Linked DNA regions of Homo sapiens. The protein of the gene in region 1 interacts with the protein of each later gene in a pairwise test. Each region holds a gene or a part of one and is shown on either strand. Other genes may lie near its edges.

Region 1 (8,027 bases):
AGCCTGGCCAACATGGTGAAACCCCATGTCTACTAAAAATACAAAAAATTAGCCGGGCGTGGTGACGGTCGCCTGTAATCCCAGCTACTCGGGAGGCTGAGGCAGGAGAATTGCTTTGAACCCGGGAGGTGGAGGTTGCAATGAGGTGAGATTGTGCCACTGTATTCCAGCTGGGGCAACAAAAGTAAAACTCAGTCTCAAAAAAAAAAAGAAAAAGAAAAGTGGCCCAAGACTTAAAGTTATCTTTTGATCTAAAAGTAACCATTTAGCTTGCTTCTATAATAAAGTTTTATTATATAATTTAAAATGTTAATTTTTGTCTTGTAGATCATAATATCAATCTAGTGTCAATGGAAGTAACAGTAAATGCTGTAGCTGGAGCCCTTAAAGCTTTCTTTGCAGATCTGCCAGATCCTTTAATTCCATATTCTCTTCATCCAGAACTATTGGAAGCAGCAAGTAAGTATAAACCTCCTTTTTATGAGAGGGATGATAATGGCAGTTTTTGGATATTGATTGCTAAGTGTTAAAATCATCATGTACTAGAATATGTAGCTAATAAAAATTAACTTAACTAGAACTCTATTTCTTAAAGGCATTTTCCTCTAAATTAAAATCAGAATCCCTGGAGATGGCCTCCAGGAATATTCTGTTTTAGCTAGCCCCCTAGGTGACTTAAATGCTCCTAGAAATTAGAAGATCATTGTACTAGAAGTTTGAGGTTTGTGTTTTTAATTCAAACTTAAGGGCATTGTAAGAAAATTAAATAAATTCTTCAAATTGTAAGTCAAAGAAATTTACTTTGGCTTTGTCTTACCTGTTTTATGTTGCTGTAACAGAATACTACAGACTGCATAATTTATAAAGTAATTTATTTCTTACAGTTCTAGAGGCTGGTAAGTTCAGGGTCAAGGAGGCCTCATCAGGTGAGGGCCTTTTTGCAAAGTCATTCCATGACCGAAGGTGGAAGGGCAAGAGAGCACACTCAGAGAGTAAGAGACAAGAAGGGGGCTGAACTTACTCTTTTATCAGGAACTCATTCCCAAAATAGCTAACTCACTTCAGAGATAACAGCGTTAATCTGTTCATGAGGACAAAACCCTCATGATATAGTCACCTCTTAAAGATTCCACCTCTCAACACTGTTGCCTTGGGGATTAAGTTTCCCACACAAGAACTTTGGGGGAAACATTCAAACCATAGCAGACCATGTGTTGTAAGTCATTTTGGGAAAGAACATGATATTTATTTAGTATTTATTCCTACTTTGGCATCTTTCATTCAGATGTTTCCACTAAACAGATATTCATTTATCTGGAAAATGAGAACTAAAGTCTGTTTGGGCATCAGTTTCATCCACATGATTTCTCAGTGACAAAAAATTAGCACAGTTGCTAAATACTTCTCTCTACTATTTCCTTTTGGTTGCAAGTCTTCAGGTTATTTTAGATGAGACTACTTCGTATTGTTCTAAGTTCTCAGTGATTCTTTTTTTTAATTCTGTATATTGTCACAAGGTATAGTTGCCTTATATATACGTACTCTCAGGTAAAGTGGGAAAATGGCTTAATTGATAGCTTAGATGTTCTTATCTATTGACCATTAATAGGAACCTCAGAACATTCCTACTTAGGAAATTTTTGAGGACTGATTTAGAAGTAATGTGTAACAAATGAAATGTTGTTAGTAATTGGTTATGCTACCATAATGATGTGGTGTGCACACTGGTCTCCAAAATAAGGAAGAGGTGGAAAGCACCCTCTATCTCATTTATTTCAGGGCCACATTTTAGTTACTCTGTTTCATAATTGCATAGATTTGGAGAGTAAGTTAAATACTTAAACTGCCTGTAAAGGAAAATCTTTGATAAGCAAAATGGATTACAAGTAATTGTAGTATAGGCGAATCTATAGCCCGAGGGCCATATTTAGGCTATCGCCAGTTTTTGGCAGACTTTTAAGCTGAGAGTCGTTTTTACACCAAGAGAAAAGAAAATTTCATGACACATTAAAATTACATGAAATTCAAATTTCAGAAGTTTTATTGGAGTATAGCCACTCCCGTTTGTTACATGTTGTCTGTTACTGCTTTTGTGCTACAACACAGGGTTGAGTAAGTGTGCCCACAAAGCCTAAAATAGTTACTCTGTAGCATAAATGTTAAGAGCCTAACATATTTATAAGTAATTAGTTAATTATAAATCAGTATCTAGTTACGTAAATTGCTAACGTACCATTTCCCATTTTGTCAATGCTGGGTCACTTTGGTCTTCAGTGATTAGCTTTCCTTATAAAAAGGCTATAGTAATAAATGATGACATTAATAGAAATAGATAATGTTAGTTGAAGTGATTTCTTAATTTACATAATTTAGCAGGTTCTTTTGAACAGGGCTCTCCAACCCCTAGGCCACACAGCCTGGCTTGTTAGGAACCAGGCTGCACAGCAGAAGGTGAGGAGTTGGATAAGGGAAACCGGGCTCCACCTTCTGTCAGATTAGGTGCGGCATTAGATTCTCCTAGGAGTGGGAACCCTATTGTGAACCACGCATGCAGGGGATCTAGGTTGTGCACGTCTTATGAGAATCTAATGATAAATGTAATGCACTTGAATCATCCTGAAACCATCCCCCCACCCATCTGTGGAAAAACTGTCTTCCACAAAACTGGTCCCTGGTGCCAAAAAGGCTGGGGACTGTTGCTTTAGAACATTTTCTTTGATTTTGTTTACCTATCCTAATATGCTTTAAACACATTCTTGACTGTTATAGTAAATATAGCAGGAAGCTTTATCAAATATTTTTAAATGTGTAAGTTTTACACAGATTCTTCACTGTTTTAATTTTACAGAAATCCCGGATAAAACAGAACGTCTTCATGCCTTGAAAGAAATTGTTAAGAAATTTCATCCTGTAAACTATGATGTATTCAGATACGTGATAACACATCTAAACAGGTATTTTTATTTTTTTAGGGTTTTTTGGCAAATAAAATGCACTACACATTTCAAACATGTAAATTTTATAAATTGGATAATTATCAGATAGAAAAGGGGACTCAGACTAAACATATAGTTGAATTTTGTTTTTCTAATTTATATCTAAAAAGATATATGATTAGTTTTGTAATGTAATTATTATATAAATAGTAAGTGTGGTAAGTATATTTTCCTTTTTACCACATTCTCTGTAAAATCTTAGAATTTTAGATATGAAATGACACTCAGATAACTAACCAGATTGACCTATTTGGAGTTGGAACAGGGTTTGGTTTGAAAAATTACTAGTTCTGTGACCTTGGGTAAATGACTTATTCTTCCTAAGTCTTGATTGTCTCAACTATAAACATGAAAATAACAACACTTCACAAAGTTGTTCTGAGGACTGAATGGAACTATTTTAGTATATGTACTAATTTTTTGAAAAGTCTCCTCATAATATTTTCTACTGGCATTTTAATGAACTGTATGGTTTTTTTTGTTTTTTTTTTTTTTTAAACTAATAGTATCAACACCCAAACCAAGTACATTTCAGCTGGTACCTCCTAAAAGAGGATTCACCAATGTTTAAAGCTTACTTTTTACTAGCAATGTGGTATAAAATTGTATTAACATTTCTTATAACCTTTCCCTGAGAAAATACCATGGAAACATGGTGAAACCCCATCTCCACTAAAAATACAAAAATTAACTGGGCGTGGTGTGAGCATCTGTAATCCTAGCTACTCAGGAGGCTTGGGGCGGGAGAATTGCTTGAGCCCGGGAGGCGGAGGTTGCAATGAGCTGAGATCATGCCATTGCACTTCAGTCTGGCCAACAGAGCAAGACTCTGTCTCAAAAAAAAAAAAAAAAAAAAAAAAAAAAAAAAAAAAAAAAGATTGTTTTATGGAATGCTAGCAGCCAGGTTTTTTTTTTTTTTTTGAGATGGAGTCTTGCTCTGTCGCCAGGCTGGAGTTCAGTGGCATGATCTCAGCTCACTGCAACCTCCGCCTCCTGGGTTCAAGCAGTTCTCTTGCCTCAGCCTCCCGAGTAGCTGGGATTACAGATGTACACCACCACACCCAGCTAAATTTAGTATTTTTAGTAGAGACAGGGTTTCATCATGTTGGCCAAGATAGTCTTGATCTCTTGACCTTGTGATCCGCCTACCTCGGCCTCCCAAAGAGCTGGGGTTACAGGCGTGATCTACCGCACCTGCTGCAACCAGGTTTTCTGAAAGTTAAAAATTCTCAGCCAGATGCGGTGGCTCAACACTTTGGGGAGCTGGAGGCCAGGAGTTTGAGACCAGTCTGAGCAACATAGTGAGACTTGATTCTCAAAAAAAAAAAGGAAGAAAGGAGAGAGAAAGAAAGAGAGAGGAAAAAAAAAGAGAGGAACAGAGGAAGGAAGGGAAAATTAGCCTGATATTAGTGTCAAACACCTATGGTAGTAATTTTTCCAAAGCTAGTTGAGAGAGCATACTCTGGTTTTTCATCTCTCACAGTAGTCAAAGAAGTTACATATACAATTAGAATTTGTTGTTTCTGTTGCCAGAAACTCAATACAATTTGTCACATCAGGAAAGGTTTTTTGTTGTTATTGTTGTTGTTTTTGAGACGGAATTTCACTTCACTCTTGTTGCCCAGGCTGGAGTGCAATGGCGCGATCTCGGCTCACCACAACCCCCACCTCCCAGGTTCAAGCGATTCTCCTGCCTCAGCCTCCCAAGTAGCTGGAATTACAGGCTTTGTCACTACGCCTGGCTAATTTTGTATTTTTAGTAGAGATGGGGTTTCTCCATGTTGGTCCTGCTGGTGTCGAACTCCCAACCTCAGGTGATCCGCCTGCCTCAGCCTCCCAAAGTGCTGCGATTACAGGCGTGAGCCACTGCACCTGGCCCAGGAAAAGTTTTTTACATACGAATTAAAGATGCTTCTTTATGCAAATTTTTAAACCCCAGGTTTGAAGTAGGATAAAAGGTAACATTAAATCTGAGATCATTTCTAGCTCTGGAATTCTGTGATTGTAATGAGTTTTGATTTCTAAATGTTTTTTCCTTTCATAATTTCAGGGTTAGTCAGCAACATAAAATCAACCTAATGACAGCAGACAACTTATCCATCTGTTTTTGGCCAACCTTGATGAGACCTGATTTTGAAAATCGAGAGTTTCTGTCTACTACTAAGATTCATCAATCTGTTGTTGAAACATTCATTCAGCAGTGTCAGTTTTTCTTTTACAATGGAGAAATTGTAGAAACGACAAACATTGTGGCTCCTCCACCACCTTCAAACCCAGGACAGTTGGTGGAACCAATGGTGCCACTTCAGTTGCCGCCACCATTGCAACCTCAGCTGATACAACCACAATTACAAACGGATCCTCTTGGTATTATATGAGTAGGAAGTGATTGCAAACAGGCTGGATTTGGACAAAAAGCAAATCTAGACATGCATGTTTCAGGGTTCAGTAGTATACTTCATGTTTCATACAGATAATTCACATTCAAAATTACATTTTCTCTTTGAACTAGATGGTATTCCTTATTCACTTACATTACAAATCTAAGACCATGTGATAAGCATGACTGGAGAGGTTTAATTTTTATAAACAAAAATAGCTATAAAGTACAAAGCTGCTGCTGCATGCAACCTTATTGCAATCAGTATATCATTCCTGTGGCAATTTCTGTCACCTTATATTGTGAATAAAATTTTTCTATAGAAATTAAATGATTTAAAAACTCACCTATATGAAACATTTAATGCTTTTCAGCCTGCTTTCTGGCTGATTTTGTTATTTGATGTGCTAATTTGGGCAACTTAATTTACATTCTGGCAGTCGGTGTAGATAACTAAAAGCCCAGTTAAGTATTTTATAATTTCAGGCTACTGAGGCCATGCTTGGGATGTTGTTTGAAAGAAAGAAAAAATACACTTGACATATTTCACATTTCTGTACCTTCATCTTTACTTCCAAGTAAACCCGTGGATGATTTGATGAGGGATAAATGAACCTATTTCTTTTACACACATACCAAGGACATGCTTGTGGCTAAAGTGAGTTGATAATGTTGTGCAAAGGATAGTTGTCACCAACTCATTTCTTTATGGTCCATAATGAAATAAAAATTTTGTATACTGTTAATTCTGTAAACAGATGCATGTTCAAAAGATCTATGATGGTCTTGTAATCTTAATCTAATATATTTTAGATATTTTAATTTTTTCCCTCTTGGGGAACACATTTAGTATAGTGTAGAAAATACTTCCATGACATTTTCATATAAGGTTATATAACTTTTCATACATAAACATGAAATTTGTTGTAGAAAATTCTTTAAACCAAACATTTAAATCTAGGACTTCAATTTAATTTGTTCCTTGAATCTATTTTTATGTGGCCCTTAAAAAATATCCAAAAAACCCATTGCTAATATAGCAATAAAAATACTTTGGGTACTGACAGACTCTTTGGAGTGTTTATATTACAAATTTGTATTCATATTCTTTTCTGTGATGTGTTGTACTAAAATCCAAAATGGCTTTTGCACCATTTTTAAGCCAATTTTTTCCTTTGATGTTGGTACCAGAATTACTATAAGTGACTGCTGCTTTTGGGGGTAAACATTTTGTTAGTGAAGATAAAACCAGAACACTAAATTATGGATAAAATTTTCAGAATAGGTGGCACAGGTAAATTTCACTAGGTTATATTTTGTGTAGTAAAGAAAAAAATTATTTGGTCAATGTTATCTTAATTCATACTACAATTTAAGATTATCTTATGTGTATTATAGTAAATAGATGATTTTCAGATTCAAGGCTCCTAAGAGTTTGATTTGCTCTGTTTTTTCCTAAAATAAATATTGTCTCTCCCAACTGTTAAGTTCTAGGTATTGTACTTCCAATTTTAACTTCAGAACCAAGATGTTGGCATGAACCAGGCTGCTGTTGAAGTACATGTATATTATAAATTATCTTATTTGTGTTATACTCTTACATGTTATCTTTTCTAAGAAAACAAAGTCCCTATTATTCCTATTGCAAAGCACACAGGAATTAAGAAAGTACAGTAATTTTTAAAAAAAAATCCGGTAAATGTAGTATTCTTAACCTGTTCTATATTACTTATACCTATTGTCTATATAGCTTTAATTTATAGTTGTCAGTTTAACTATTGGCATGTCTGGCAAAGAAAATTAAACTTTAAGAGTTTTATAAACTGTTTCTAGGTTGCTAAAGAATTTATTTTTCTACTATATATGGTATAGACAAAGCATCAAACTATGTACAGGAAAAAAGCCTGACTATTTCTATTTGGAAGTAGGCTGAAAAGAGAATTTTCAAAACTGTTCGTGTCTTCAGTTCATTCTGTCATAACTTTGCTATTGTAATATGTGAATACCAGTTTATTTAAGCTGTTCTCTTTTATACTGTATTAATTTAATGTTCATCTGCGTTTAGTACCATTTTTGTTATTAAAACTGGCATTTACCGTTTTTCACATTAACCCACCTTGCACCTTCCCCCAAACTTATCTCCACTTTTCTATGCATTCTATCATTGATTTGACACACTTCATAGTGAGTCATTTAAATACTCTACGTTTGGTTCAATTAACCAGTAGGTTACAGTTATTGAAAATTAAAGTACAGTTTAAAGCTCAGTCTGTTACACTGAATTGATTGTGTTTGTTTTTGCCAAGGGTTTAGATATGCTTTTAAATATTAGAAACATCTAAGAACAGAATAACATAATTAAACTTTTTTCTGGTAAGTTACTGGAAGGTTTCACTGTTTAGGGACCTATCATATGAGACTTCTTAAAGGATTAAAAGAATAGGATAGTCTCATAATTGTGAGTAAACATCAAGGCATTATATTTTACAATACTGAATAAAATTTCATCTACACACATGTTGCCATTGTTTCATTTAAGGTTCAGTGCTTATAGTTAACTACAATATTGGACCTAACAGGATCTAGATTAGCAATATAAAGAAGCATAGTGGTACTCTGTTTCACACTTTCAGTAGATTTATTAGAAGTCA
Region 2 (8,027 bases), on another chromosome or scaffold:
TAGTGAGCATCTTCCAGATCAGTCAAAGTAGGTTGGTTCCTTGGCATACATCTACTTAGTCTCCTCTGAACAGGGATTTCGTGGGTTGGGACAAATCCAATTTCTATTATTCATATGAATCACTGCAGAGACATAGGGGTGAAACTGTATCCTTTTGGTGGACCTGCCTGTGTTGGGTGACATGCTCACATTTTTCCACATTTGATAAAAATCAAGCCTCTTCTGCCTACTCAACACTGGATAAAATGACAGTGTCATACACAGAGAACAGAACACTCCTTTGGTTGCTTCAGCATTCTTTTTTTGGCCTCATTTTTCTCCCTCTTTACTGAGTTTTTGAGTCCAAATTTAGTGGTGATGACTAAGAAATTGCCAGGATGTGACAGAGCATTCAGTTCATTGAGTCCTTCCTTGCCATTTTTCAATAGTTGTAACAATTGCCAAGATTTTCTCCTGATGTTATAGGTGCCACGTTATAGGTGCCAGATACTAAATTACACTTGCAGAATCTGTCCATGCAGTGACAGCCTCATTTTACATACAGCTGATTTCATGATATGGTATTAAGGAAAATCCCTGCAGACTTTTTACTAGTTGATAATTCTGAGTCCTAGAATTTCCAATATTTAAATCTGAATCTCTGAAATTCAAATCACATAAACAATAATCAAGCGGTCTGCCATGTGCTAACGTGTCATTTTTGTTGGGGGAAGGTAGATTGGGGAAAAAATAAGACAAGTTCCCTACCATCTGGAGCTAATCATACAGTTGTATGAGTCACAGGGCCATGCTAGAGATGTAGATAGAGTTTATGGGAGCACAGATAACAGGTGTAATCAGTTCTGATTGGGAGAGATTATATGTGATTCTGGAAACAGTCATATTTGAGCTAGGCCTTGGAGGGTTAGAGGAAAGCCAGTAGGTAGAGAAACAAAGGAATGACATTCTAAGCAAAGGAAATGAATGGCATCAGTAAAGCGCAAAGGCACACATGGTTCTGTGGTGAATGACACTGGAAGATGACGCTGGAAGGCATGGTAGTGACTGAATTGTGGAGAATTTTTAAATGTTACATCAAGTTGTTTGTTGTTTTTACTATAGGCAAGGTGAAATCATCAAAATTTCCCAAGGAAGGGAACTTTGCTTTAGGAAAGCAAACCTGCCAGCTGAAGAGAAGAAACCAGTTAGGATGTTATGACAGCAGTCCAGTGAAGAGGTAATAAGGCGCAAAGTAGAGCAGTGGCATTGGGAATGGAAGGTGAAGGTCATGGATCACGGACTAGAGGGCACAGGAATGAAATGAAAGGCCCTCTGAAGTGTTAAGTGAGCAACTGCCAGGATGGTGGATTCCAGTTACTAAGACAGGGAACACAGGAAAAGTAGAGGAAGTGTGGCCCTGTGCTTCAAATATTATTCTTCCCTGTTTTCTGTATTGAAAAGCTCGGCTAAAATGATACCCTCTCTGTGAATCCCTCCCTAGTCCCTCAGTCAGAATTAAGTCTGGCTTTTTCTGTTTTCATACAGCACCTCCTGTAAGCCTCCCTTTCTTTCCTTATGGTAGCACACATTGTATCTATGACATTTGTGTACATGCTTGATACCTACAAATATATGATAAGCTGTCTGAAGCCACATATTACTTACCTATGAATATTTAGCACCGATCAACTACATAATGGATCCTTAGAAAATGTGTATTAAATGAATGTATGAATGCTGCTATCACACAAGACATTAAATGCAGCCCATTTTTGGGACCTGACTTAGAATATGCAATGATCCCATCTCACCATTCTGGAGTCAGCCATACATTGTTTATGTGGCTATTTGGTATCATTTGCCTTGATCATATGCATTTTTCACCAGATATATTTTCAAAATGGTTTGATTCTTTATGAAAGGAAAATCCATTCTCCAATGATGACTTTTTTCCGTACAGTGATTTAATTCCCAAAGAATTTCAGCAACGTTCTATGTACTTGTCCTCATCACTAAAGGAAATGTGGAGACTTCTAGTCAAATTTCTTGGTACTTTCTTGGCTTTCTCTATGTTGAGAAATCCTACAAAGAGGAGTTTTCACAGCCCATAAATAGAACATTTTGGTTCCTAACATGTGACAGTTGCCTTAGAAGTACATTGCTTCTTGAGTAGGTTGAATTTGTGTGAATCCTCTGAACATCTATCGAGTGTGCCCCTAGGCTGAAATAACCCCAAAAGATACTTCAGTTCGTGCATTCTGGGAGCCAGATTGGGAAGATGGGGGGAGATTAGGCAGATTACTGTGTGAAACACTGTTTGTAGAATCCCAGAAAAAAGGAAAGGAAATTGCTTGAGTGCTTAAATTTCAGAGAAAAGCTGCCTTGCCTGAGGAATATATCCCTCTTTGCTGAAGTGACTGAGAGGGCTTCAGATGTTGCTGCTCAGCTAGTGTGTATTGCTTAAAATGGTATCCAATATGAAAAATAAAGGAAGGTAGAACCATGGAGACATTGTTTTTAAAAGACTAGTGCCCCAGAAAGCTTGCAATATTTGTTTGTATACATGTTTTTGGTGATAGTACCAAGTGTTTTTCCTGATAACATCTCAGCAAATTAGCAAAAATCTGATAGTTTAATTGGTGCCTCTATGACATGTAGCTCACTTAGCATTTTCCTAATAATCTTCCACTCCAAGTAGGCCCTTTGCTACTCTATGGATTACTTATACATTCAAATCTACTATTCATTTCATTTAGCTTAGAAATTATCATTTTTAATGGCTGTTTATTGTACACATAGACACGTGTACACTCAAACACACAAAAGGTTTTTTGTTGTTGTTGGTTTTTTTGTTTGTTTGTTTGTTTCCTTGAAATGGTCTATTGAGGGCAGGAGCCCTTCATTTGAAAAATCCAGTCTAAAGTAAAAATGGCCAAATGCATGACAGAAAACCATATTCCTGAGTTCAAAGTCCACTGGGCTGCTCTATCGTGTCTGCTAGTAAAATTGCTGTAAATTCCTTGCTTTTGTATTGATTTGCATGTAAATGTTACTGTAAGGCAAGGATGGGGTGAGGGGGGAATTTTTCTTTCTGTCTCAAGTCAAGGTCCAATGATCCAAAAAAAATCAATTTGGTTTACCTAAAAGTAAAAGGTAGGCTTTCTTTGTAGCATTCTTTTAGAAATATAGGCAGAAAGCATTGTAACACAGATTTCAGCCTGAGGCAATTGACAACCATAGTGTATAATAACTCAAGAATCCATGAAAATTAAGTACAAGGACCGAATGTTTATTTTCTCATATTGAACCCTGAAGGGAACAAAGCTCCATGTGTCAGTTTTATGCTTGTCTTTTCAATCCTTGGCTCTTGTAGTTGTCCAATATATTTCACTTATGTGGCTTGTTCTAATGTTCCCATTACCTATTACAAAGAGAGCTAATCATTGATCAATAGCACTTTCACTTATGACTTTTTCTAAAGCATCATGTGAAATGTTATATGTAGTCTGATGGTTTCCAATGATGATAGTTTATGCTATTAAAATAGAGCACCAGTCACACGAGCTTTTACAAAGTATGTCTTAATCTCCTAAAAGGCAATACCACATGATTCTACAGGAAATTCATAGCTATAAACACTGAACTTTTGTTTATTTACTTTTGTTGCAGGAACTTTTCACACCTGAGTGCAAATTCAAAGAATCAGTGTTTGAAAATTATTATGTGACATATTCATCAATGATATACCGTCAGCAGCAGTCAGGCCGAGGGTGGTATCTGGGTCTGAACAAAGAAGGAGAGATCATGAAAGGCAACCATGTGAAGAAGAACAAGCCTGCAGCTCATTTTCTGCCTAAACCACTGAAAGGTACATTTGATATTGTGGGAACTATGGATTATGCTACTAAATATACTTATTTATTTATTAAATTTCAATAGTTTTGGGGGTACAGGTGGTTTTTGGTTACATAGACAAGCTATTTAGTGGTGATTTCTGAAATTTTGGTGCACTCATCACCCAAGCAGTATACACTGTACCCAGTATGTAGTGTTTTATCCCTCACCCCACTCTCAACCTTCCCCCCAACCAAGTTCCCAAAGTCCATTATATCATGCTTATGCTTTATGTCTTCATAGCTTAGCTCCCACTTAAGTGAGAACATACAATATTTGGCTTTCCATTCCTGAGTTACCTCACTTCGAATAATGGCGTCCAGCTCCATCCAAGTTGCTGCAAAAGATATCATATCATTTCTTTTTATGGCTGAGTAGTATTCCATGGTGTATATATATACCACATTTTTTTATCCACTCGTTGATTGATGGGCACTTAAGTTGGTTCCATATTTTGGCCATTGTGAATTGCGCTGCTATAAACATACCTGTGCAGTTGTGTTTTTCATATGATGACTTATTTTCCTTTCAGTAGCTAGCCAGGAGTGAGATTGCTGGATCCAATGCTACTTTTAGTTCTTTAAGGATTCTCCATACTGTTTTCCATAGTGGTTGTACTGATTTACATTCTCGCCAGCAGTGTAAAAGTGTTCCCTTTCACCACATCCATGCCAACATCTGTTGTTTTTTGACATTTTAATTATAGCCATTCTTGCAGCAGTAAGGTGGTATCTCATTGTGGTTTTAATTTGCATTTCCCTGATGATTAGTGATGTTGAACATTTAGAAATAGTAATTTAAAGCAGTCCTTAATAATACTTTTGAAAATGAAACAGTTGTTCCACATTAAGACATTTATTTAAAAAACTTACATTTTGTAACACTCAAAAACATTTGCTCTCCTGATTTTAATTTTTCCATAGTGCATGTACATATAGTGACACTTTACTTATGTGGAAGTAACTTACATGCTAACTCAGGACAGCCAAGATCCCCAAATTATGCTAAAATGTTGCCTGGGCAGAAACATAGGTGTTAAAAATGTGTATACACAGCCGGGCACGGTGGCTCACGCCTGTAATCCCAGCACTTTGGGGAGGCCGAGGCGGGCGGATCACGAGGTCCGGAGAATGGCGTGAACCTGGGAGGCGGAGCTTACAGCGAGCTGAGATCGTGCCACTGGACTCCAGCCTGGGCGGCAGAGTGAGACTCCGTTTCAAAAAACAAAAGAAAAAAAAAATGTGTGTACACTTAACACTTACCAGAAAGCTCCTTGGGTCCTCTCTAAGGGCCCAACATATTATTTCAGCAAATTTTGCTTATAGTTTTCCCATCATTATTAGCAGATTAATAGCAAATTAGAAAGGGTGAGGGACAAGAATAGGCTATGGAAGATAGGGAGGTAAGAAATAGTGAGATATGGTAGAGAAGAGACAGAAAATGCGGGCAAAGCAGAGGAAGACTTCAAAGAGATTACTAGCCTGAGGTAAGAGTAGGGGTTTAGAGTAGAGGCAGACACTGTGCAATTCGAATAAGCACAGCACTGTGTTTTACAGCACATTTTTTGGAGCCAGACTACCTAAATTCAAGGCCCAACTTCACTTTTTGCTAACTGGATGGTCTTGAACAGGTTATTTACCTGTGTATGCCTCAAGTTCATCTGTATAATATGGATAAGAGTACTTATAAGATTCTCATAGGGACTAAATGGGATAATGCATGCAAAGAACTTAGAGTAGTATCTAATGTTATGTGTTCCATAACTATAAGCTATTATGTTTATTTATAGCACAATAATAAATTTTACCATTTACTGTACCAAGAATTATCCAATACTTAGACTCTTGAAGTGTTTCATTTTAAAGTATGATAGAAATCAGTGTTTTAAAATATTTTAAATTTTAATATTTGCCTTGTACAGTATGCTATAGATCATATTTAAACTTCTAAGAGGTTTATTAAATGCATTTTTTATTAATCCTCTCTTACATAACCATATGTGGTTGAAGTTAGGCATTAAAATTCTTTACACACTACTACACCAAGGCTAGATTTTTGCTTAATCTGAACCTGTCCACTCTCTACTGAGTCCTTGAAAGCAGTGTTTTTCATGTCTGGCTTAAGGCACAGAAGCCTAGTAACCAAAAGAAAAGTTGAGGACCAGTGTGGTAGGCCCATTTTTTTAATGTATTTTTTTTCTCTTTTTCCTTTTCTGAATTTAATTTATAATTGACACAAAAATTGTATATATTTATTATGAACAAGGTATTTTGAAATATGTATACATTGTGGAATAGCTAAATCAAGCTAATTAACATATGCATTACCTCACATACTTATCATTTAGGTGTGTGGAATAGAACACCTACAAACTATTCTTAGAAATTTTCACAATTGGTATGCCCATTTGAAGGCCTTTTACACCATCTTTGTGTGCTTTTCAGTGGCCATGTACAAGGAGCCATCACTGCACGATCTCACGGAGTTCTCCCGATCTGGAAGCGGGACCCCAACCAAGAGCAGAAGTGTCTCTGGCGTGCTGAACGGAGGCAAATCCATGAGCCACAATGAATCAACGTAGCCAGTGAGGGCAAAAGAAGGGCTCTGTAACAGAACCTTACCTCCAGGTGCTGTTGAATTCTTCTAGCAGTCCTTCACCCAAAAGTTCAAATTTGTCAGTGACATTTACCAAACAAACAGGCAGAGTTCACTATTCTATCTGCCATTAGACCTTCTTATCATCCATACTAAAGCCCCATTATTTAGATTGAGCTTGTGCATAAGAATGCCAAGCATTTTAGTGAACTAAATCTGAGAGAAGGACTGCCAAATTTTCTCATGATCTCACCTATACTTTGGGGATGATAATCCAAAAGTATTTCACAGCACTAATGCTGATCAAAATTTGCTCTCCCACCAAGAAAATGTAAAAGACCACAATTGTTCTTCAAAAACAAACAAAACAAAACAAAACAAAATTAACTGCTTAAATGTTTTGTCGGGGCAAACAAAATTATGTGAATTGTGTTGTTTTCTTGGCTTGATGTTTTCTATCTACGCTTGATTCACATGTACTCTTTTCTTTGGCATAGTGCAACTTTATGATTTCTGAAATTCAATGGTTCTATTGACTTTTTGCGTCACTTAATCCAAATCAACCAAATTCAGGGTTGAATCTGAATTGGCTTCTCAGGCTCAAGGTAACAGTGTTCTTGTGGTTTGACCAATTGTTTTTCTTTCTTTTTTTTTTTTTTTAGATTTGTGGTATTCTGGTCAAGTTATTGTGCTGTACTTTGTGCGTAGAAATTGAGTTGTATTGTCAACCCCAGTCAGTAAAGAGAACTTCAAAAAATTATCCTCAAGTGTAGATTTCTCTTAATTCCATTTGTGTATCATGTTAAACTATTGTTGTGGCTTCTTGTGTAAAGACAGGAACTGTGGAACTGTGATGTTGTCTTTTGTGTTGTTAAAATAAGAAATGTCTTATCTGTATATGTATGAGTCTTCCTGTCATTGTATTTGGCACATGAATATTGTGTACAAGGAATTGTTAAGACTGGTTTTCCCTCAACAACATATATTATACTTGCTACTGGAAAAGTGTTTAAGACTTAGCTAGGTTTCCATTTAGATCTTCATATCTGTTGCATGGAAGAAAGTTGGGTTCTTGGCATAGAGTTGCATGATATGTAAGATTTTGTGCATTCATAATTGTTAAAAATCTGTGTTCCAAAAGTGGACATAGCATGTACAGGCAGTTTTCTGTCCTGTGCACAAAAAGTTTAAAAAAGTTGTTTAATATTTGTTGTTGTATACCCAAATACGCACCGAATAAACTCTTTATATTCATTCAAAGAATAATCTTCCAACATGTATTTATTGAGCGTCCATTATGTGCCAGTAACTGAAGTAGCAACTGGAAGTAAACATTGTATAATGCAGATAAGGTCACTGTCCTCAGATAGTCTACAGTCTAGAGAGTCATATTAACATGAACACTTTAAAGTGTGTTTATTTTACTAGTTACTGTACTTGCACTTCAGATTGGTACAAAGGAATTCACATTCCCGTTCAGTAGTCAAATTATACAAATGAGGCGTTTGTGCTAGTATTTTCTCTGCCACTCACAGTGTCATTTCCCCTCTCTGTTGCTT

The links.
Region 2: the proteins of ARHGAP5 (region 1) and FGF13 interact in a two-hybrid assay, tested with the Homo sapiens proteins (one study listed by BioGRID).

Annotation. Positions count from the first base shown.
Region 1 is NC_000014.9:32,149,575-32,157,601, forward strand, and holds part of ARHGAP5 (rho GTPase-activating protein 5), read left to right. Parts: intron 1-327; coding exon 328-459; intron 460-2,848; coding exon 2,849-2,954; intron 2,955-5,046; coding exon 5,047-5,374; 3' UTR 5,375-8,027. UniProt on the Homo sapiens protein: GTPase-activating protein for Rho family members.
Region 2 is NC_000023.11:138,631,277-138,639,303, reverse strand, and holds part of FGF13 (fibroblast growth factor 13), read left to right. Parts: intron 1-3,648; coding exon 3,649-3,847; intron 3,848-6,317; coding exon 6,318-6,454; 3' UTR 6,455-8,027. UniProt on the Homo sapiens protein: Microtubule-binding protein which directly binds tubulin and is involved in both polymerization and stabilization of microtubules.